Linked DNA regions of Homo sapiens: regions 1, 3, 4 and 5 are each linked to region 2. Evidence: fine-mapped expression QTL. A gene starts in region 2. Each other region holds a variant in brackets. All regions are shown on one strand. Distances are between the middles of the regions.

The links. PIP is the estimated chance that this variant, and not a neighbour inherited with it, causes the effect.
Region 1: its variant is fine-mapped to the expression of PIK3R5 in whole blood (TOPMed, PIP above 0.99).
Region 3: its variant is fine-mapped to the expression of PIK3R5 in whole blood (TOPMed, PIP above 0.99).
Region 4: its variant is fine-mapped to the expression of PIK3R5 in whole blood (TOPMed, PIP above 0.99).
Region 5: its variant is fine-mapped to the expression of PIK3R5 in whole blood (TOPMed, PIP above 0.99).

Annotation. Positions count from the first base shown.
Region 1 is chr17:8,886,357-8,891,054 of GRCh38, reverse strand. PIK3R5 (phosphoinositide-3-kinase regulatory subunit 5) reads left to right here. Exons shown (of 19, transcript NM_001142633.3): 7 at 143-317; 8 at 929-1,082; 9 at 1,833-1,916; 10 at 2,164-2,884; 11 at 3,372-3,534; 12 at 3,834-3,959; 13 at 4,450-4,578. LOC124903922 (a long non-coding RNA gene) reads right to left here and starts at 3,433. Exons shown (of 2, transcript XR_007065613.1): 1 at 3,355-3,433. RefSeq lists enhancers at 1,507-2,315, 2,316-3,124. The variant T/C (reference allele first, on the strand shown) is at 2,832.
Region 2 is chr17:8,963,784-8,968,481 of GRCh38, reverse strand. PIK3R5 (phosphoinositide-3-kinase regulatory subunit 5) reads left to right here and starts at 2,775. Exons shown (of 19, transcript NM_001142633.3): 1 at 2,775-2,886. PIK3R5-DT (PIK3R5 divergent transcript) reads right to left here and starts at 2,635. Exons shown (of 3, transcript NR_184080.1): 1 at 2,479-2,635; 2 at 641-1,715. RefSeq lists silencers at 2,362-2,461, 2,532-2,851.
Region 3 is chr17:8,879,535-8,884,232 of GRCh38, reverse strand. PIK3R5 (phosphoinositide-3-kinase regulatory subunit 5) reads left to right here. Exons shown (of 19, transcript NM_001142633.3): 16 at 2,352-2,445; 17 at 2,521-2,603; 18 at 3,216-3,328; 19 at 3,447-4,698. The coding sequence ends at 3,594. The region is part of intron 1 of LOC124903919 (a long non-coding RNA gene); the gene reads right to left. Among named protein-coding and RNA genes, the nearest start is that of PIK3R6, 14 kb to the right of the region's middle. The variant G/A (reference allele first, on the strand shown) is at 2,458.
Region 4 is chr17:8,872,149-8,876,846 of GRCh38, reverse strand. No RefSeq gene overlaps it. Among named protein-coding and RNA genes, the nearest start is that of PIK3R6, 6.8 kb to the right of the region's middle. The variant C/TC (reference allele first, on the strand shown) is at 2,396.
Region 5 is chr17:8,935,275-8,939,972 of GRCh38, reverse strand. All of the region lies in intron 1 of PIK3R5 (phosphoinositide-3-kinase regulatory subunit 5), which reads left to right. Among named protein-coding and RNA genes, the nearest start is that of PIK3R5, 28 kb to the left of the region's middle. RefSeq lists a silencer at 330-439. The variant G/A (reference allele first, on the strand shown) is at 1,873.

The sequences.
Region 1 (4,698 bases), 77 kb after region 2:
GTGGTCACCTCCTCGAGCTCTGCCTGGGCTTGAGGAGGCCCTGGTCTCAGTGGAGCTGAGCACCAGCAGGCACGAGGGGGGTGGCTGCACTGTGGCATGCTGCGCACCCCTGGGTGCCATAGCCGGTCCCCTGTGTCCCCAGCACCGTGCTGCTGCTGAACCCAGTGGAAGTGCAGGCCGAGTTCCTTGCTGTAGCCAATAAGCTGAGTACGCCCGGACACTCGCCTCACAGTGCCTACACCACCCTGCTCCTGCACGCCTTCCAGGCCACCTTTGGGGCCCACTGTGACGTCCCGGGCCTGCACTGCAGGCTACAGGTATGTACCTGGGGCCTGGGGCTCTGGTGGAGCACCTCTCTGAGGAGGTAGCACCCTCTCCCTGCTTCATCTCAGCCACGGTCTCCAGGGTACACTTAGTCTCCTGCACCCAGGTGACATGGCAGGGTGGTGGCTGGAGGGCTGACCTCATAGAGGGTGTTTCTGGTGTGCTGGATCCTAACCAGCTGGGTGGCAGCCTGGGCAGTAGGACTGGGTGCTGATAACTGGTGCCTCAGAAGATGGCATATGCCATAAGAACGAGAATGAGCTTTGGGCTGAAGACCTGGCATCTAGGCCTGGCTCTGTCACAGGTGTCACAGGTCGGCTGTGTCACCCCACACAGCTCCTTCCCCTCTATGGGGTACAGTGAGGAGCGCTGAAGTCCCTCCTAACTGCAGTGCCGTGGCTCTGGATCTTTCTCTCCTGACCATTTCCTGAGAATGGAAGGGCAGGGAGAGGCCTGGCTGCCTGGCCAGCTGTGGGTAGGAGATGGGTGATGAGGCTGGGAGGGGACAGATCACTGCCTCCCTCAGTAAGAAGCTAGCAACTGGAACAGGTGGACAGCTAGCTCACGGTCCAGGAGCAAAGCCCATCTCCTCCTGGGGTTTCAGGCCAAGACCCTGGCAGAGCTTGAGGACATCTTCACGGAGACCGCAGAGGCACAGGAGCTGGCATCTGGCATCGGGGATGCTGCAGAGGCCCGGCGGTGGCTCAGGACCAAGCTGCAGGCGGTGGGAGAAAAAGCTGGCTTCCCTGGGGTGTTAGGTGAGGCTCTTGGGAGAATGGGGTTCTCCCACATTCCCCATGGCCTATTCTAGGTCCCAAGGTGCACGGTCCAGGCGGGCCTGGTGGCTCTGCTCCACACAGTCACTCAGGGACTCAGCTTCTTCAGCATCTCACTGCTCTGCCATCCCCTAGGGTGTCTCATTCCTGTCTATAGGGGCAGGGTGGGGGTGCTATCATGATGGCAGCTTGTGGGAAGAGGAAAAGAGAGTGCTTACGAGGGCAAAGGCTGGGCTTTTCTGTTGAAGGTGATGCAGAAGCTGGGCACATCACTTCCGCTCATGTTCCTTTGAGCCCGCCTTGGTCACGTGGCCACATCTTGCCCCAAAGGAGCCTGGGAAACATCGTCTCTATGACTCCAGTACCATAGAAGGGAGCACAGACTTTGAGGAACCATTAGCATTCCCTGTTACAATATTCCTCATAAAAACCTTCTGGGCTAGTACTATTATTCTCCCATGGGCACATTGTAAAATGAGGCTCAGAGGTTGTGGTTTGGCCACATTCGCACAGCTCATAAAGGGCATGCCATCTACATGGTGTGCTTGAAAGAAGGGCCTCTGGCTTGGAGCCTGGCACCCTGGCTGTAACTCAGCCTCAGCCTATCCAGCTACATATCCTTGTGCCGATCCTGTCCCATCTCTGGTCTCTTCTCCAAGGCAAGGGGACTGGACTGGCCAATCTCCAAGGCCTCTTCCCAGCCCTCTTCTCCTATCCTCCCTGTTCTTACAGACACTGCAAAACCAGGGAAGCTCCACACCATCCCCATCCCTGTCGCCAGGTGCTACACCTACAGCTGGAGCCAGGACAGCTTTGGTAAGGAGCCGGGGCCCTGGTGACACCCATGCCCCACACTGCCTGAGCTGTGTTTCTGGTCCTGGGTCCATGCAGCTCCCACCCCGTCCCCAAAGCTCTCCCACATGAGCAGGCTCTAAGCAGAGCAAGGGGGCAGTGCTAGGAGTCCTGGGCTGGCCCTGAGTCCTGCTGTCTCCCCTCCAAAGGGAATATAGAAGGGGATCCGGGGCCCAGACGCCCAGACAGTGCTGGCCTTGCTTCCCTGCAGACATCCTGCAGGAAATCCTGCTCAAGGAACAGGAGCTACTCCAGCCAGGGATCCTGGGAGATGATGAAGAGGAGGAAGAGGAGGAGGAGGAGGTGGAGGAGGACTTGGAAACTGACGGGCACTGTGCCGAGAGAGATTCCCTGCTCTCCACCAGCTCTTTGGCGTCCCATGACTCCACCTTGTCCCTTGCATCCTCCCAGGCCTCGGGGCCGGCCCTCTCGCGCCATCTGCTGACTTCCTTTGTCTCAGGCCTCTCTGATGGCATGGACAGCGGCTACGTGGAGGACAGCGAGGAGAGCTCCTCCGAGTGGCCTTGGAGGCGTGGCAGCCAGGAACGCCGAGGCCACCGCAGGCCTGGGCAGAAGTTCATCAGGATCTATAAACTCTTCAAGAGCACCAGCCAGCTGGTACTGCGGAGGGACTCTCGGAGCCTGGAGGGCAGCTCGGACACGGCCCTGCCCCTGAGGCGGGCAGGGAGCCTCTGCAGCCCCCTGGACGAACCAGTATCACCCCCTTCCCGGGCCCAGCGCTCCCGCTCCCTGCCCCAGCCCAAACTCGGTACCCAGCTGCCCAGCTGGCTTCTGGCCCCTGCTTCACGCCCCCAGCGCCGCCGCCCCTTCCTGAGTGGAGATGAGGATCCCAAGGCTTCCACGCTACGTGTTGTGGTC[T/C]TTGGCTCCGATCGGATTTCAGGGAAGGTGGCTCGGGCGTACAGCAACCTTCGGTAAGAGCCGTAATGCGGAGCATCCCTCTGCCCTGGGTAACAGGGTTGTTGTGCTGGTGGAATCTGGGGCCTGAGGCTTAGGGCCCCAGAGGAACCAAAAGTTCCCTTATTTATTTTTATTTTATTATTATTATTATTATTATTATTATTATTATTATTATTATTATTTTGAGACAGAGTCTTGCTCTGTTGCCCGGGCTGGAGTGCAGTGGCATGATCTCGGCTCACTGCAACCTCTGGCTCTCCAGTTCAAGCGATTCTTGTGCCTCAGCCTCCCGAGTAGCTGGGATTACAGGTGCACACCACCACACCTGACTAATTTTTTTTTTTTTTTTGTCTTAGTAGAGATGGGGTTTCCCTCTGTTGACCAGGCTGGTCTTGAACTCCTGGCCTCGGGTGATCCACCCACCTCAGCCTCCCAAAGTGCTGGGATTACAGGCGTGAGCCACCATGCCCATTCCCCTTCTCACCATCTTCTTCTTGCCAGGCGGCTGGAGAACAATCGCCCACTCCTCACACGGTTCTTCAAACTTCAGTTCTTCTACGTGCCTGTGAAGCGAAGTCATGGGACCAGCCCTGGTGCCTGTCCACCCCCTCGGAGCCAGACGCCCTCACCCCCGACAGACTCCCCTAGGCACGCCAGCCCTGGAGTATGTCCCCAGCCTGGGCCAATGGTCGGGGAAAGTAGAGTTCTGGCTACCTGAAGGAAGCCGATTGGAAGTCATGGAAAGCAAGCACCTGTGTTGACAGGGCACCTCCCCCTGCCTGGCCCTCACTCCCTGCACTTGGACATGACATTTTGCCATATGACAAAGACTGAAAGTTGTCATACTTCCCCAAGGGCAGGGAGAAGCTCAGCATGGGGCTGCAGGTGCCATCCAAGGCCCTGGAGCTAGGATGGGCAGGCCTCCTGGGGAGCTGGGATGATGACTCTTGTTCTTTGCCCTAGGAGCTGGGCACCACCCCATGGGAGGAGAGCACCAATGACATCTCCCACTACCTCGGCATGCTGGACCCCTGGTATGAGCGCAATGTACTGGGCCTCATGCACCTGCCCCCTGAAGTCCTGTGCCAGGTAAGTGGCCCCGTGGTTGCGGAACAGGGTCCACTGGCTGCAGTCACCCAGCCTCACTTAGAAGGCCCTGGATTTAGGGAATCAGGCTTGAGGCCCCCATGGAGGACCTGGGCCCTCTTGGAAAAGATCAGGGAGTGTGGGTGAGAAGCAGGACTGAGCCTGAACTCAGGACACTGAGTGTGAGAGCTGGGGTCACTGCAGTGATGGAGGAGGGCCCTCAGAAGGGTCCGGGGGACCTCAGATTTCAGCCCCCTTCCTCAACTCCCGCCTTTGTCTGGCTAAGCCAGAAGCCTCCCTGGAGGCCAGTGGGTCAGGTGAGGGGCATGGAGGCTGGGCACCGGCCCTCCCCTGCTTCCTGCTTCCACCTCACCAGCTCCCCCTGACTGGCTGCCTCTATGTCTCTCTTCTCTCTTCCTCCCTAATTCTTGCTCCTTCTTACCATCTATCCACCCACCCATCTGGCTTGGCTGCCCCTTCCCTCTGGCCACAGCAGTCCCTGAAGGCTGAAGCCCAGGCCCTGGAGGGCTCCCCAACCCAGCTGCCCATCCTGGCTGACATGCTACTCTACTACTGCCGCTTTGCCGCCAGACCGGTGCTGCTGCAAGTCTATCAGACCGAGGTAAGGCCTCCCTGCCCCGAACCGCCTCTTCCCCACCTGCCGGGCCTGCAAGGCCCCACCCCTGCCCCGGGAGAGCCAGCAGGTCTATGCTGGAGGAGCCAAATGGGCCCCTCCAGGAGG
Region 2 (4,698 bases):
AATCTTACTATCCACTGGTGGATAGTAATGATGTCAACTGAGATAGGGAAGGCAGGAGAAGGAGTTTGGGAGAAGATGAGGAATTTATTTTAGGTCATGGAGTAATTAAAAGGCTTTTGGATTGATTATCTAGGTATGGGTGTACAGAAAACACTTGGAATTACAGATCTGGAGCTCAAGAGAGAAGTCTGGGCGATAGTTTGGGAGGGATCAGTATGATGGGAATGGATGAGATTGCCCAGGGAGAAGAGAAGCAGCCTTATCTGAAATCTCAAGCATTGTAATGTTTAAGAGATGATGAAGAAATGAAGCCAGAAGAAGAAAACAGAAATCATGGTGAGAGGTGGAGGAGAAGCCAAGGAGGGGATTTTCAAGAAGGAGTGGTGCCAAATGCTGTAGTGAGGTAAGAAAATGAAACCATTGGAGTTGACATTTGGGGTTTCCCTGGTGGTCTCTGTTCAGAGAATTGAGGAATAAATGTAAGATGAGGAAGTGGAGGCAGGGGTAGACTCCTCTTTGAAAACATTAGGCAGTGAAAGGAAGGAGAGTGATTTCAAAGAGCCATAGATTTTAAAACAAAGCAACAAAGGAGTTGTAGAAAGAGGTACATAATCAGATGCTTAATGAGTGACAGAGGTACCTTTCAGAGTTTTTCCAGCAGCTTTGGGGAGGTGGGAAATGGAGAATGGATAGGTGTCAGGTGCTGATCAGATCTGTGACAGGGAGACGCAGACAGAACTCAGTGTTGACGGCGTGGCATAACATGCAGGCTCCACATCTGGGCCACAGCTGTAGGTGGAGAGGAGAATGCCTACTTCTGAGGGGATGTACGATGGGACCAAGTTGGCTTCTTGGGATGCTCAGAGCCCTAGGAGTGAGCACCAATGAGCCACTCTTTTGCAGTTTTCCTCCATTTTCAGAAGGCAGGCATCCCATAATTTCTCTGGCAGATTATTTGCCTTTCCAAGTGCTCTCCTAATCCAACATTTCCATCTGGCACACAGTGTCATTCTTGCTCCTGAATTCCTGATTCCAGAGCATTTCTGCCATTTTCTTCCTTTGCACAGTGTGTACCTTCCCTCTTCTCCTCTTCTTCCAAATGTCCATATTTTTGTGGTGGAAAAAGTGGGGACAGGGGAGACAGAAGACTGGAATCCTTATCAAGTCCTCTCTCAGCCCTTGGTGGCTCTGGTTCCTTCTCTGTGAAAGGGTGACGTGTGGGGAAGGGGTTGGGGATGAGGTAGGAGAGGGGGTCTGAGTTCCTTCCCACGTCTAACGATGGCTGGAACCAGGCCTCTGTGTTCAACCAAGGGTACTTTCTGTTTCTGTCCATTTGGGGAAGTTGCTTTTTCTTGGTATTTCGGGAGTCAGGAAAAGAAAAGTCATTGGTGTTCATATCTCTCAAAGCCTCAGGTAGGGCTGCGGCTTTTGACCAACAATAACGTATGACCATGACCTTGTGGCCGAGTTTGCACGCCTCTAACAGATATTATGACACAGTTCCATTCAATAGTGGAAGTGGAGATTTCAGCGTTGCCCTTTGTTAACCCACAAATGAAGTGCTACTCTTCCATTGTGAGGGCTGTCGGAGCAGTAGCCAACCTTCTTATCCCCATTTTTTAAACGAGGGAAAGGAGGCATAGGAAGCGCAGTGTCTTGTGGGATTCCCTGGGGAGTCCTTCCAACTCTTGGTAGAGCATCATCTGCAACGTCGTCTGGGGGAGAAAAGGGGGAGGCAAGAAGAGGGCCTTGACCCTGGAGGCAGGAACTCCCGCACACCCTCACTCCCTTCCCCAGGGGCTGGGGAAACCACTCAGGTGACAGTAGCCTTGGTGCCGGCCAGGGAGGGCGGGAAGTCCAGCCAGAGGCTGGAACAGCAGTGCTGAACGCCGGGACTGGCTGGTATTTCTATGAAGGTTCCTGCAGAAGGATGCGGGTCAAGGTGCCCGTCTGCACAGCAGTAGTGCAGGCATTTTAAGGGTTAAGGGCACCCAAAGAAAATAGAAGTAGGGGCCGGGCGCAGTGGCTCACGCCTGTAATCCCAGCACTTTGGGAAGCCGAGGCGGGCGGATCACGAGGTCAAGAGATCGAGACCATCCTGGCCAACATGGTGAAACCCCGTCTCTAGTAAAAATACAAAAAATTGGGCGTGGTGGCGCGCGCCTGTAGTCCCAGCTACCCGGGAGGCTGAGGCAGGAGAATCGCTTGAACCCGGGAGGCGGAGGTTGTGGGGAGTCAAGATCGTGCCACTGCACTCCAGCCTGGCGACAGAGCGAGACTCCATCTCAAAAAAAAAAAAAAAAAAAAGAAAGAAAATAGAAGTAGGAAGAGGAAGTGGGTCGCAGTGAGAGAAGGAAGCAGCTCGTCGGAGCTTCCTCTTTCTCGTCTTTCCCCTAAGCCCCTACCCCAGACCTGCCCCCCTGCTCCGCCCAGCCCTCCTGCGGGGCCAAAGCCGCGCTTCCGACGCGGGGGCCTAACCTCCCCTTACTCCTTGGGGGTCGCTGGTGCTCCGCGCTGGTGCCCCTCGGGCCACTGCCATGGACCGGCCAGGGTCTGCTTCTTCCGAGGGCTGGCGGGTCAGAGCCGGGGCTGCTTCTCAGACGCCTTGCGGCCTCGGGGGCGTGACCCAGAGGATGTGGGGCCGGGCGCGCACCTGGCTGACGCTGCCGGGCCGCCAGGTGGCTGGAGAGGCCGGCTCCGCGGTCAGCCCCGCCCCATTAGGCCCCGCCCCCTGACAGGCTCCGCCCCGCCCGCCGGAGGAGCCCAGGCTGGGCAGATGCTGCGGCTCGCCGCGCGGCTCCAGCTGGGGCGCGGTGGTCCCGACGGTCACCCGAATCGCAGGGAGTCGCCGCTGGAGAGGGGCTCGGCGCCCGGCGGGGACTGCAGGTGTGTGACTGGGCGGCCAGGGCGGATGCGGAGGGCACGCATGGGAGCTCCAGGCAGAGCTGGAGCAAGCTGGGGACCGTCGGGGAGAGTGGGCTCCGCGAGCAGCCGCCGCAGCCCGAGGGCTGGACAGATCCTGCTATCTTCCGGCCCCGTGGACCTGGCCCACCGCGGGGGCAGCGGGTCTGCAAACCTGCGCTCCAGATAACCCCAGAGACTTAAGGGGCGTCGCGGGGACCACTTATCGTTATCCGGGTAACCTCTGCTGGGCGGCTCTGCGCAGCTGTGTCCTCAGCCTCCTGCCTCTGACACAGGACGCCCTGTGTCGTAGGGTCAGGTCCCCTGCCCGCTCCAGCGGGGAACTGTCCGTGAGCGTGGGCATCAGGGCTCTTGTGCCGTCAGAACCTGGGAGTCATGGAAGTGCCCGCGTAAGGCGCCCTCCGTCGAGCCTCACTCAGCCTGCTAGTTAGCCAGCCTTGGGCCCAGACGCGGCTGCTGTCCTAGAGAACTGCACGCTTTCTGCTCTCAGAGGATCTGTGTTTACACACTGGACATCCCCGCGTGACTCGTGTGTGTGTGTGTGTGTGTGTGTGTGTGGGCATGCGCATGTGCGCGTGCTGGCCCATCCCGGCCTGGGGTAAATACACAAAAAGTTCAGGTCAGTAGGAGGAAGGAGATTGTTCAGAAGGAAAAGGAAGGCGAGGTTAAAGCAGCAGGATGTGGTATAAAGCGAGTTAACAAGACTCGGAGTAGAGAGGAGGGGTGGGTTTAGGCAGAATAAGGGCTAAAAGTAGGCCAAGCCTGCCTCCAAGGTCCTCTCTGGACTGACACCCTCGTTTTCCTTCTGTGTCTTCTCATCCACCCCACACTTTCCTTCCTGCCCTCAGGACCACCTGTAAGGCACTGGCTCCCAGAGCTGACTGCAGGTAGGGCTCTCTTGGAGCCAACCCTACAACGTGGCTTTCCAGGGATGGGATCTGGAATCTGTAGTTTTCAAAACTTTGAATGAGCTCCTTAAGTGATGATGCTGAAGCCGTTGCTTGGGAACCATGCATGATGTGGAAAAGAGACCCAAGTTCCAACCGGATCCAGCTGTGTGACCTGCAGCATCACACTGTCCCCCAACCCAGCCTCAGTCTCCTGATTCATAAAATGGGCTGTCATACTGACCCATAGAGCTGTGTGGAATTATTATTATTATTATTATTGAGACAGGGTCTTGCTCTGTCACTCAGGCTGGAGTGCAGTGGCGTGATCATGGCTCACTGCAGCCTTAAATTCCCAGGCTCAAGCAATCCTCCGCCTCCGCCTCCCAAGTAGCTGGGATTACAGGTCAGCACCACGGCGCCCAGCTAATTTTTGTATTTTTTGTAGAGGCAGGGTTTTGCCATGTTGCCCAGGTTGGTCCCAAATTCCTTGAGCTCAAGCGATCCGTCTACCTTGGCCTTCCAAAGTGCTGGGATTATAGACATGAGCCACTGTGCCTGGCCCAGTGTGGAAAATTAAGTGAGGCATGTATGATGAGAACGGCTGCACGTGGGAGATGCTCCGTGGATGTTTGTAGAACGCTGGCTTCCGTGTTTCCTCGTTGTGGCTGTGGTGGTGTGGGTCTTTGCCTGTGGACCCGTGGAAGACAAAGAAGACAGTTTTGGATGGTCAAGCTACTTTCTTGCTTCAGGGCTCCCTCCCCTGCTTTTTGAAGCCTCACAAACCAGGACTGTGAGGGCAGGAAGGCTTGGGGTCTTTGTGTGCTGAGCCTCATTAGGGTTTTAAGAACCTCCCTCCTTTCATCTCTAGCTTACGAGAGGGATGATT
Region 3 (4,698 bases), 84 kb after region 2:
CATCCCAAGGTCCAGGCTGAGGGAAGCTTGGCCTCACAGGTGGGCTTCTTCCTTCGGCCATTCCAAAGATATCCTCTTAGCACCTGCCCATGCTGCCTCTGTGCTGGGCAGGGGAAAAGAGGGGTTGAGCAGGGAAGCCTAGGCCTCACTTTAGCTTGTCTAGAGGAGGGAGACAGACAAGAAACGAGGAAACAAAGAAATAGCCAAGATAATTCCAGAGAGCGGCAAGTGATGACAAAGCAATAAAACAGCAGATGGACGGTGGTGTTGGGGCTGCAGTGCGTTTGGCAGTGAAGGAGGTGGGCAGGAGGCACCGACACTCACTGTAGCCACATGCCAGGTGCTTGCTAGACGTCTTCCACAGCCCAGGCACTGTTCTAGGCCCTGGAGCCTTCCTAAGAGTGAACAAAGGACAGACGTGGTCCCAGGAGACCTGCTGGCCCCCTGGAGTGGGTGGTAGGCATTGGTTCGATGATGCACACGATGTAAAATTACAACTGTGACACATGGATGAGGAGAGGGACACGGGATGTTCCTAAGTGGCAAACCGAACCCAGTCAGGAGAGTTAGTAGTGAAGGCTTCCTTGAGAAGGCACCTGAGTTAATATTGGAGGGAAAACCAGGAATTAATTAGGCTGAGAAGAGAGGTGAGTGCTCTCACAGCAGCAGAAACTGCATGTGCAAAGGCCCTGTGGTGGGAGGCAGTGTGAACACCTTGAAGCACTCTGAAAGAAGACCCCCAGGCTGGAGCAGAGACAGCTGGTGGGAACATGATGCTGAGGTGAGGCTAAAGAAATGGGGGACCAGCATACCAAGAGCCTTAATTGCAATGAAAGGAGTTTTGTGGTTTTTTGTTTGTTTTTTTGAGACATAGTCTCGCCCTGTTTCTCAGGCTAGAGTGCAATGGCTCAATCTTGGCTCACTGCAACATCCGCCTCCCTGGTTCAAGCAATTCTCCTGCCTCAGCCTCCTGAGTAGCTGGGTAGCAGGTGCCCGCCACCACACCCGGCTAATTTTTTGTATCTTTAGTAGAGACGGGGTTTCACCACGTTGGCCAGGCTGGTCTCGAACTCCTGACCTCATGATCCACCTGCCTTGGCTTCCCAAAGTGCTGGGGTTACAGGCATGAGCCACCACGCCCGACCCAATGAAAGGAATTTTATCCTAGTCCTAAGAGCAGTGGATATCCATTAAGGGGGCTTATGTTTGTGGTGGGGCTGGGAATGCCTGTGACATGATTATATCTGAGGCTTGGAAGCTCCCTCTGGCAGCTCTGTGGAGGACAGATAGGAAGGGTCCACAAGTGATGCAGGAAGGCCAGTTAGGAGGCTGTTGCCATGGTCCAGAAGAGAAATTAGGGCAGCAGCCTGCACTAGGGTAGTGGTGGCAGAGCTGGAAAGGAATGGGAGACAGATGTGAGTGATGTAATCAGCAGGGCCCATGGATGGGTTAGGAAAGGAGAGGCCAGACTCCTGGAGTCACTCCTCTGTGACTGGCAGCACCATCTTCTCTGGGGGGACCACAGGAAGAGGCCGGGGTCCAGTTGGGGAAGAGCTTGAGTTTGGGTCGGGACATATTATTGAGGTTGAGAGGCCTTGAGAGGTATAAGGAGACAGTGAGAATAGACGGCTGGCTGAACGGGCCTGACTTTGTGGTGAATATGAAGATGGGTGGACAGCTGCTAATGGAAAAAGGTCACGGAGGAGACTCCTGAAGGGGGGAAGCAGGGAATACAAAGAGCAGAGGACCAAGGGGAGAACCTTGAGCCCTTCATGATGTAATGGCGGGCAGAGGGCAGCGATCCAGCAAAGCAGAGAGGCACCAGCCAGAGAGGCGCTAGAAAAACCAGGAAGGTGCCATCACGAAAGCCCAGGAGAGGTTTTCAAGGAGGGGAGAGCAGTGAACTGTAAGGTCAAGTAAGCTGAGGACCAAGAAGTGTTCTTCGGTTTAACAACATGGAGGTCCCTGATGACAGAGACATTCACACAAAGACTTGAAGAGGGGGTTCAGGTCTGGCTCTGCCAGAAACAGCATGTCTGTGGGCCCAACCCTTCTTCACTCTGGGCCCGGCAGGAGAGCTTCAGGACCACCCCTGCAGGTGCTCTCAGCTCTTGTACCTTTCAACCTGGTCACAGAGGCTGCTGACCCCTAGACCAAGCCAGTGACGTGAGCTCTTCCCTGGAGTCATCCAGGTCTATCCAGGGTGGTACAGGGGCCCTGGTGAATAAGAGAGGGCTTTCTGGGGATATGCTAACTAGAGGCAACCCCCTGTCACTGATGGGCCTTCAAAGAGAAGGCAGCAGGCACCGGGGCCTCTGGACTCAGAGGGTCTGGCTACACTGCATTTCCAGGGGGCCATCAGTGGACGAAGTCGCTGGAGCAACCTGGAGAAGGTCTGTACCTCCGTGAACCTCAACAAGGCCTGCCGGAAGCAGGAGGAGCTGGGTGAGTGGGGTG[G/A]TCAGTGTGGGGTGTGCAGTAGGGAGGTGCTCTGAGCCTGGCCTGAGTGTCCTTGCCCCTCAGATTCCAGCATGGAGGCCCTGACGCTAAACCTGACAGAAGTGGTGAAAAGGCAGAACTCCAAATCCAAGAAGGGCTTTAACCAGGTACGGGCTTCCCTCTCCTTCCAGCCATACCCTCAAGAGACTTACTGGAGCGTGCATGTGCGTATGTGTGTACGTGTGTGTGCACATGTATGTGTGTGCATGTGTGCACATACACACCCGTGTGTACATACTTGTGTGTGTGTGAGAGAGAGAGGAGAGGTGGGGGAGGAGAGGCAGGGTGAGGGGTATGATTTGGGGATGCACACAGGTGTGGAGTGTTGCGGGGTGTCGGGGAGGTAGGGGTGCCCTGTGAGAGGACGCGTGTATGTGGAAAAGTTGTGGGGTGGGTGCCAGGAGAGTCCTAAGACTCTGAGACCAAAGAAAGCAGGCTCTGGATCAGGGGACCTGGGGCTGCTCCGGTGAGGGCAGCAGGCAGGGCAATGTCTCCTCAGGGGGCACTTGCTTCTTCCAGATGCTGGAGAGGAGGCAGGGGCTGATGGAGGCCTCAGGCTCCCTCCTGTGACCTGGCCATTAACCCTGGAGCGCAGTCAGACAAACCCCTGCCCTCCCACACCCCTAGAAGTGGATGGGCAGTTCTGAGAAAAGGAACTGCCAGGGGCTGGCAGTGTTGGATGGCCAGGGATTTGGGGCTGACCTGGGCCTTCCTTCCAGATTAGCACATCGCAGATCAAAGTGGACAAGGTGCAGATCATCGGCTCCAACAGCTGCCCCTTTGCTGTGTGCCTGGACCAGGATGAGAGAAAGATCCTGCAGAGTGTAGTCAGGTAGGAAAGGGGGGTCCTAGGGAGGGGAGCAGTTTCTGCTCCCACCAACCCAGAGGCCTGGAAGGAGCTGGAAGGATGGGGGCCTGCTCTGATCCCTGGCCCCTGCCCTGCTGCACAGATGTGAGGTCTCACCGTGCTACAAGCCAGAGAAGAGCGACCTCTCCTCACCACCCCAGACGCCTCCTGACCTGCCGGCCCAGGCCGCACCTGATCTCTGCTCCCTTCTCTGCCTGCCCATCATGACTTTCAGTGGAGCTCTGCCCTAGTGTGGGCCCAGCGCCAGACTGGACAGAAGCCCTGGGGCAACCTCCTCGGCCACCCCTCCAGGACAGTCCCTCTCTGTGGAGAACTGAATGGCCCTGTGCAGAGCCATAGTCCCACTGTGGGTCCTGCAATGAGCAGGGGCTGGGAGTAGAGGGTTTCTGGGGCCTCAGGGTTCTGGGAAAGCAACAGCTATCAGAGAGAGAAGGGCCAGACCCCATAGCCTCTTAGATTCCTGGCAGTAGAAGGAGAAGGATGGGTAAATTGACCTCTGAAGTCCCTGACCATTAGCATGGTCTAGGATCCTTTCTAGAAGGAAGATCTGAGGCTCTGGTGCTCAGGGGGATGGCTTGGGCCTTTTCTCTCAACCTTGGCTGAGCCTACCCCTTACTTTGCCAAAGACTTGAGGACCCTGTATGTCTGGAGTTCAGTCCCCTCCTCTGTGGGGCTCAGGTGATTGAAATGTGGATGAAACATTTCTCTACTTCAAGACCACCTCTCCCTGCAAACACCACACACACATGGCATGCATGTACGCACATGCGCACACACACACGCACACACCTCAATAATTTCTCTCAAGTTTCCTGAGTCTCCAGAAAAACAGCACTAACGCTGGACCTGTCTACTCTCAGAACCCGGCACAGATTCTCTCTTGATCTCCTTTTGGAATCTGAGATTCTTAGAAGACAGGATAGGGTTAAATTTAGTAGCAGCTCAGTTCTAGCTAAATCACTAGAGGAAGTTAATTAACTTTAAGCCTTCATTTCTCCAGCACTAAAATGGAGTGGAGAGTTGGGGTGGAAATAAGACATCCTTAAAAGGTTAAATTGTCTGCAAAGCACCTAGCCCAGTGCCGAGCTCCCAGTAGGTGTTCAGTAAAGCTTAGTGCCTGACTTTCTGAACACTGATTCCTCCTGTTTGGAGTCACTGGGATACTCTCATTGCCGTTGGGATGTTCCTCACTCCTTCCCAGTTCGTGGCTGAGGCAGAACCCAGACTGAAGAGGGAAGAGACATTCCAGAGGAGGATTGCCTTCGTCAGGGTAAGGGGTGGGCTGCTCAGGGGCCCTACCCTTCACCCCCTTCTGTATCAGATTGGCCCTCCCA
Region 4 (4,698 bases), 92 kb after region 2:
ATTACAGTTATAAAGCTATATACACCAAATAACAACTGAAAATTATATATAAATATAAATACATGTCACTATATAAATATAAACTGTATATAAATATAAATATAAAACAAAAATGGACAGAACTAGAAGTCTCCACAACCACAGTGGTCAACATATCTCTCCCAATAGCTGATAGAACACATAGACAAAAAATTTTAATAGAGATATACAAGATCTGGACAACACAATTAACAAATTTGATGTTACTGAAATTGATAGAACATTGTGGCCCATTCTCAGCTCACTGCAAACTCCGCCTCCCGGGTTCAAAGGATTCTCCTGCCTCAGCCTCCCAAGTAGCTGGGACTACAGGCGCATGCCACCACACCCAGCTAATTTTTTTTATTTTTTTAGTAGAGACAGGGTTTCACCATGTTGTCCAGGCTGGTCTCGAACTCCTGACCTCAGGTGATCCACCCACCTCGGCCTCCCAAAGTGCTGGGATTACATGCATGAGCCACCACGCCCAGACAGAAGATTCTTTAAACCATACTTCACAAAAATCACTGGCTGACCTAAGAATGGATCCCCTATTGGTCAGACACATACCCTGGATACTATCACCATGAGCTGTAGGCGAATCCATGGGCCAAGTGGTTATAGGCTAAAGGGGCTCTGAGCCAGAATGTCTCATCCAGTCCATGAGCTTTTGTAATCCGAGTCATTGAACACTGAGGAAAGGGGCCGAGGTAGGGGACTGAAACTAGAATCCCCATTGGGTCCTGCTGTTGGCAGATGAAGAGAAAGGAGGAGGCTGTCCTTTTCAGCACCCCATCCTCCTCCTCAAGGTGGCCCCTCCTCCGCATGGTACCTCACCAAGAGCTCAGGAGCTGGCCATAAACTTGCAGACTCTCACCTCCCACTACTCACAGCAGAATTACTTCTGCCCTAGGCATGTTGACCTCCTGGTCTTGCCATCCCTGGAATGGGTATATTTCTCCAACTTTGGGAGGAGATAGGTGTCTCCTTTTGCCACTTCCTGCTTCCTAGAAGGCTGGGCAGGCCTCAGTTAGGGGACCAAAATCAAGCTGTGCACTGCGGGTCTCAGGGTTTGGGACCGTAGAAGGGAGCGCTCTCTTGGCCCCCAGTTCCATCATTCCTTCCTGCACCTGGCAGAACCCCTGTGGCCTTACATTTCCTCTGCTCCCTTTGTCGGATACGGCACTCTCTCAGGCTAAACCTCGGATCACAGGGAGGCCAGGGAGGAGCAGGAACGTTCACCCTTGGAGTGACCCTGGCCGCCTCCCGATGTCTCCAAGCCTCGCTTCCTTGCCTGTGAAAATGACACAGTGTCTACTTTCCGGGGAGTGTGTAGGGCTCATCAGGGGACGCAATGTGAAAGGGGATGGTGCTGCTGAGACTGTAGTCCAGGTAGCCTACCGGGCCTCAGGTGTAATGCTCAACCTTGTTTTTACTAACCCTGTTTTTAGACTCTCCCTCTTTCCTTTAATCACCTAGCCTTGGTTCCACCTGAATTGACTCTCCCTTAGGTAAGAGAGCCAGACAGACTCCATCTTGGCTCTTTCACTGGCAGCCCCTTCTTCGAGGACTTAACTTGTGCAAGCTGACTCCCAGCACATCCAAAAATGCAATTAACTGATAAGATACTGTGGCGAGTGATATCCGCAGTTCCCAGGAATTCGTCCGATTGATAACGCCCAAAGCCCCGCGTCTATCACCTTGTAATAGTCTTAAAGCCCCTGCACCTGGAACTGTTTACTTTCCTGTAACCATTTATCCTTTTAACTTTTTGCCTACTTTATTTCTGTAAAATTGTTTTAACTAGATCCCCCTCCCCTTTCTAAACCAAAGTATAAAAGAAAATCTAGCCCCTTCTTCGGGGCCAAGAGAATTTTGAGCGTTAGCCGTCTCTTGACCACCGGCTAAATAAACGGACTCTATTTTTTTTAAATAAATGAAGCCTATTTTATTACTTCAAGTGTTAATGATAAAAAAAATTTCAGCACAGCTGTTGCATTTTAAAAAGTGAAACTACATACTATGTTTCTAGCTCAGTAAACAGATGAACCTGATGTCTTTAAATGACATAACAATTGAGCATTGTACAGTACATCTTATGAAGACCCGTAAATTAAAGAACTACTGGTAATAATCACTAACTATAAACAGACTCTTAATTCATCTCAAAGTGTGGCGTTTTCTCTAACTCGCTCAGGTACAACACAGGGCTCCCTGTGAGCAGAAGCCTTACCGAGAGGGGGCTCCTCCAGACACAATGGCTTACACCTCTTTGTTCTCCTCAGGTAGCTGGGAGCTTCTTCTAGGGGCCGGAAGGTAGTGGTCTATCACCATCTTCAGACCTCTCCTTGAAGTCCCTGGCATCCCAGTCATGCCT[C/TC]CCCCCGGGGAAAGGGCTCTCCCACAGCCTCCAGGGCAAGAAGCCCGCAGCCCCCTGTCTGCCCAAAGCAGAAGCAGCACAGTTTTCAGCCCCTGCGGCTCCAGGCACACCCGAGATGCTGTGTGGACCCAGCCAGCCTGGTGCCTGCCCTGGGCCTTCAGACTGCCCCTCCCGCATTGCCACACTGCCACCCACTCCAGCACCGGTAATGTTCACAGCTTCCCTGGGGAAAGGGCTCCCCCATTTTCTTGAGGAAGAATCCACTTCCTCCTTTCCCCAAGTCTCTGAATCCTTCTCTTTCTTCCCCCAACCATACCAGTAAAATCAGGGTAAAGGAAATGCCTCCTGGGAGAGGGTGCCATCCCCCATCCCTCTGGGGGCAAAGTGAGGCAGGTGGCAGACTCTGTCCCCAGGCGTGCCAGCTTGTTTCTCTCTGTTCTGTGCTCAGGCACACCTATGTCCCGGCTCGGACCACAGCCCCGGAGACTCTGAGTGTGGGCTCCCTGGAGACATGGCTGTGGTCACAGCAGGTACGTGTGTCTGCCACTCTTTGCACGGGGGGAGTGGGAAGAAATGGCGCTTGTTCGAAGGATCTCAGATATTTCCAGCTCAAAGGTGCAGCGTCTCAGTCATTGCAACCTGCACAGAGAATCACCTGTGAATGTCTGCGTCGAGTGAACTGACCTCTCAGCAAACACTTTCAGCACTTACTGAGCACGTGTCAGGCGCTGCTCTGTGTGCTTTACATGCTTACGTTAACTCATTTGTGCCACAGCCCCATGAGGTAGGTACAATTATGCTCCCTTTTACAGGCAGGGAAACTGAGGCAGAGACAAGTAACTTGTCCAAGCTCACAGAGACAGTAAAAAGGGGAATCCAGGATTTAAGCACAGACAGGTGGGGTCCAGAGTCCCTGCGCTTAACCACTAATCTCTGCTGCTCTCTGGAACCTCTCGTGTGGGTGGTGGGTAAGCTGAGGCCATGAAAAGGATCACACAGATGTCTGAGAAGAATGGCTTCGTTTCTAATGGAACGCTGGAGACGCTCTGATAGCTTCAAAATAGAAGCTGTGTTCACACACCCTCAGGAATGGTGGGAGTGGCAGGGGTGGAAAAGTTGGAGGGGGCATAGAGGAGGAGAGGAAGCTGGGGCCAGACTGGGTTGGCGGGACTCCAGGCTGGTCTGCGCGGACCACTGCTAAGGGGAGGGCAGTCAGGAAGGAAGCCCTCGGTGAATGGTGAATGTCGCTCCTGGCTCCAGAGCAGACTGAAGGGGGTCCCCCGAGACCTCTGGGGAAGAGGAGGGAGGGAGCAGAGCGGCCCCCACCCCCACACACCCAAGGAAGGGGCCCTTGCAACCAGGGACCAGAGGCCTTCTCTGAGCAAAACTGTAGCCGAAAGTCTCTGAGGCCAGAACAGAATCGTTTTGGGGCTGAGAAAGCTGAGGAGGGCTTTGCAAACCCAATCTGCAGCCCCTCAGGTTACAGAGGAGGAAACTGAGGCCCAGAGACTGGGAGAGGCCTGCACAGGGTCACACAGAGTGAGAGGCACGTGCCAGGATGAGGGCCCAGCCAGGTAGCCTGGCTTACTTTTGGGGGTGTAGCTCAGTGTGTGCATGCGTGCGTGTGTGTGTGTGTGTGTGTGTGTGCGTGTGCACATGAGTGGGTGTGTGGTCCTGCACATGTTTGGAGGGCAGGCAATTTGCATAAATAATGCAAGTTGGGGTCTTTGCGTTTTCTCACTGATTTCCTGGTTGACCCCAGCCATCTTGATTTGTTCCACTTCCTGGTGTGAGTTCATTTGGAAAAAGAAAATGGAGAGGGTGATATGCATATCATGCAGATGAAGAGACTCCTAACACCTCCCCAGCTCAGCTCCACCAGCAAAAGCCTGTCCAAGGAGGAACCTGCGGTATTAGGGGCAGAGGGAGAGGAAGCAGGGGTCCACTTGGTCTCCCTCTCAAGGCAGCCATGAGAACAGGGGAAATGAGAAGAGACCAGGCCCCGCCCTCCACAGCAACCCCAAAGTGTCTGCCCTCTCACCTCATCACAGAGCTGCCAGTACCAAGGAGTTTGGGAGAGGGGACAGTTGCACCCGCAAAAGAGAAGGAGGAGGTCACAAGGTTTTCTTCACCTGAAGGGCAGCTTTCGGAAGAGGGAGTGACTGATCTTCTCTGTGTCCTTCCCATTTCGAACCCTGTAAATGTGTAACTAGTCCAAACAAACATGTACATTTAAATGTAAGAAAAGAATGTGGTTGATCCTTATGTACCAATATATCGTGATCTTCAAGTAAACAAAGCAA
Region 5 (4,698 bases), 29 kb after region 2:
AGATGGGGACCACCATGAGAACTGAAACACTCTATTTGGAGCTTTCCAGAAATACGCAGATTTGAGGAATTCTGGAGTAGGGAAGGACATTGGGGCAGGAAGGTGACCCCTTCTCACACCAGGACTCCAGAATACATGAATATCAAAAGGCAATGACAGTCCCTGGGAGAGGGAGGGGCCACGTTCCCATTCCTCTTGGCTGCACAGCTTCTGGGGAGCAGAGATTCTCAGCCAGGCATCCGTGAACTTGGATGGAGAACACGTGGCATCGTTATTTTCACTCACCTGTAACTGAAGTTCGCATTTGAACGTAGGCAAAAACCACAGTCATATCAGTAGCACCTGTGACTTTGTCACCAACAGAAATCCAGATGTTTTCGTGTCACTTTGAGGTTGCAGATACCTCAAATGTCATTCATGCTCTTTACTACGTTTAGGTGATCACAGTGATTAGACTCACTGCTGGGCTTTTATTATTTCATGTGTTAATGAGAAGAACGTATACTCCCATTTCATAAATCTGATGATTTAAAAATAGTTTGACCATTGTATTTCAGTGTAACTCATTTCCTTTGCAATTCTGTGTATTTTATTTCATGCATTTAAAGCATTATTCTGAAGAGGGGTCTGTAGATGTCAGACTGCTGAATGGTCCCATGGTGCAAAAAAGTTTAGGAATTCCTACTGCTGGAGCAATTGGGTAGAGAATTCGAGGTGTTACCTGACAGCTGGGGAGGGCTTTGGTGTTCGGCAGGCCTGAGTTAGCATCATTGCTCTCACTTGCTGCAGATCCTGAGAAAGTGACTTTATCTCTCAGAGCCATCGTTTCCTTATGTGTAAAACAGAGATGAAGAATGACCACCTGGAAGGATTGTCCCATGTGAAAGTGCCTGCCTCTTCCAGCAGCTGACAGGTAGTAGGAACTCACTGTGGGTAGTAGCTGATGGCGGTGGCACCAGCTTATGTAAGCCCACAAGACTCAAGCAGGATTCTCTTTTTACAGAGGAAACTCCAGGCTACGTTCATTTCTTACTGTCCCTCATGTAGAAAGGTAAACTTGGGTCATACCTGGATACTGTCTCTCATCTTTTTCTTTTGCTCTGAGCAAGTAGCTCCCATGTATCCAATATGAATCTTGGTCCATAAATTCAAGCATTTGAGAAATAAAATTACAAATATATACTTGAAATGCTTCAAGTGTATCTGAGAAATTCTTGGTATGTCCACACAGTGAAATATTACTCAGTCATAAAAAGGAGTAAGTACTGTTACATACTACGACATGGATGAACCTAGAAAACATGCACTAAGTGAAACAAACCAGATGCAAAAGACCACATATCATAAGACTTCATTTATATGAATTGTCCAGAATAAGCAAACCCATAAAGACAAAAAGTAGATGACTGGTTGCCAGAGGATAAGGGGAGGGAGAATGGAGAGTGATTGCTAATAGGTATAGGGTTTCTTTTTGGAGCGATGAAAATATTCTGGGATCAGATAGTTGTGATGGTTACATACTTAGTGAGTATAGTAAAAGCCGCTGAAGGGTATTCTTTAAAATGTTGAGTTTACGTTACATGAATTACAGCTCAAGAAAAAAAGTAAAAATCACTGCCAAACCTATGGACATTGAAAAGATAATAAAGGAATATTATGAACAACTCTATGCCCACCAATTTGCTAACTTAGATGAAATGGAATAATTTCTTATTTCTATTAAAACTCATACAAATAGAAGTAGATTATCTGAATAGGCCTATATCTATTAAATAAATTGAATCAATAATCTTCCAAAACAAAAAAGTTTCAGGCCCAGATGGTTTCACTGGTGAATTCTACCAAACATTTAAAGAAAAAATGGCCGGGTGC[G/A]GTGGCTCACATGTGGAAGCCCAGCACTTTAGGAGACTGAGGCAGGCAGATCACCTGAGGTCAGGCGTTCAAGACCAGCCTGGCCAACATGGTGAAACCCCGTCTTTACTAAAAATACAAAAAATTAGCTGGGTGTGGTGGCAGGTGCCTGTAATCCCAGCTACTCAGGAGGCTGAGGCAGGAGAATCACTTGAACCCAAGAGGTGGAGGTTGCAATGAGCCGAGATTGTGCCATTGCACTCCAGCCTGGGCAACAAGAGTGAAACACACACACACACAAAAGAAAAAATGATGGCAACTCTCTACAGTCCATTCCAGAAAATAGAAGAAGAGGGAGTGCTTCCTAACTCATTCTATGAGGCCAGCATTACCTAATACCAAAACCGGACAAAAATATTACAAAAAACGAAAACTACAGATCAATATCTTTCATTAATATAGGTGTAAAAATCCTCAATAAAACATTAGCAAATTGAATCCAACGATACACGAAAAGAATTATAGATCACAGCTAAGAGGGATTTATTCTGGATATACAAGGCTGATTCAATATTTGAAAGTCAACTAACGTAGTTAATTACATCAACAGGCTGAAGAAGAAAAATCATAAAACTAGATACAGAAGAAACATTTGATAAAGTCCAATACCCATTTATGATAAAAATTCTCATCACACTAGAAATAGAGAGGAACTTCTTCAGCTTGATAAATACTTATACAGAAAACGTACAGCTAACATTATGGTGAGAAACTAGATGTTTTCCCCCTAAGACTGGGACCAAGGCAAAGATGTCTTCACTTACCACTCATATTTAACATCGTACTGGAAGTCCTACGTAAAGCAAAAATATAAGAAAAGGAGATGAAAGGTATACAGATTGGGAAGGAAGTTTCTGTTCACCAAATAACATGATTGTCTATGTATAAAATCCCAAAGAATCAACAATGACAAAAAACAACATTCCTGGAACTAAGCAATTATAGTAAGGTTTCAGAGTGCAAGATAAATACACAAAAGTCAAGTGCTTGCCTATATACCAGCAATGAACAATTGGAATTTGAATTAAAAATACAATACCATTTACACTAGCACCAAAAAATGAAATAATCAGATATGAATCTAACAAAATATATACAAGATTTATATGAGAAAACAATAAAATGGATAAAAAAATCTACAGAAATCTAAATAAATGGAGAGGTATTCCATGTTCATGTATAGAAAGACTCACTATTGTTAAGCTGTCAGTTCTTTTAGTTTTATCTCTAGACTCGATGCAATCTCTATCAAGACTCCAATAAATTACTTTGTGAATATTGACAAACTCATTCTAACACTTATATGAAAAGAAAAAGACCTAGAATAAACAACACAACATTGAAGAAGAACAAAGTCAGAAGACTGACATTACTAACTTACTAAGACCTGCTATAGAGACTTGTAAGACTTACTATAAAGGTGCATCCATACAATGGAATATTATTCAGTGGGAAAAAGAAAAGAGCTATCAAGCCATGAAAAAACATGAAAGAATCTTAAGTGCATGCATATTGCTAAATGAAAGAAGCCAATCTGAAAAAAACTACATACTGTATAATCCCAACTATGTGATGTCCTGGAAAAGGCCAATCTATGGAAGCAGTAAAAAAGAAGAATGGCTACCAGATGCTGGAGGGAGTAGGATGAATAGATGGAGTATAGGGGATTTTCTGGGCAGTGAAAATATTCTGTGATACTGTAATGTGTATTGATATTATATATTTGGAGAAACTCATAGAATTGTACAACACAAAGAGTGCACCCTAACGCACACTGTGGACTTCAGTGACTACTCTTGTATCAATATTGGTTTATTAATTTTAACGAATGAACCGCACTAATGGAAGATATTAATAATAGAGGAAACTGTGGGTGGGAGGAGGAAGGAGAGGGAGTATATAGGAACTCTCTGTACTTTAATATTTCTATAAACCTAAAACTACTTTAAGAATTAAAGTCTATAAAAGAAATAGAAATAAACATTGTCTCCTTTTTTTTTTTTTTTTTGAGATGGAGTCTCGGTCTGTCACCCAGGCTGGAGTGCAGTGGCGCAAGCTCAGCTCACTGCAATCTCCGCCTCCCGGGTTCACGCCATTCTCCTGCCTCAGCCTCCCGAGTAGCTGGGACTACAGGTGCCCGCCACCACGCCCGGCTAATTTTTTGTATTTTTAGTAGAGATCGGGTTTCACTGCGTTAGCCAGTATAGTCTCGATCTCCTGACCTCGTGATCCGCCCGCCTCAGCCTCCCAAAGTGCTGGGATTACAAGCGTGAGCCACCATGCGTGGCCTTGTCTTCTTATGTTGACTGAAATCCGATGCCAAGCCCCATCCTGCCAGGAGCTGTCCGGGAGCTCAGAGCTGTTCACTTTCCTGCCACAAACCTTCCTCAGGATGGTTGCCTTCTTATTTAGCATGGGGATAGGGTGAGGGGAGAGCACAATGTACAGAAAGAAATAAATTAATAGAAATATAAATTATCCTGTATTTGTACTCTGAGGTCTTAGGAACAGCTCCGGGGAAGCTTGGGTTCTGACCTGAATCTCTTCCTTTGGCCTCTGGCAGAGGAAACAAGGAAGGAAGCAGGTCTCCCAGGCAACCTGCCCACACTGTGGGTGGCCAAAAACGACTCGTTCAACACCTCTGAAGACTGACTCACTGGGACGTTGCAATAGACGTGATTTCCCCTTGAAGCCAGAGGAATATCCCCTATTGCTCATATGGTCATAACATCATGGGCCTATATTTGGGCGGGGCTTTCGTTTGCACACTCATGTAACTTTCCAGGG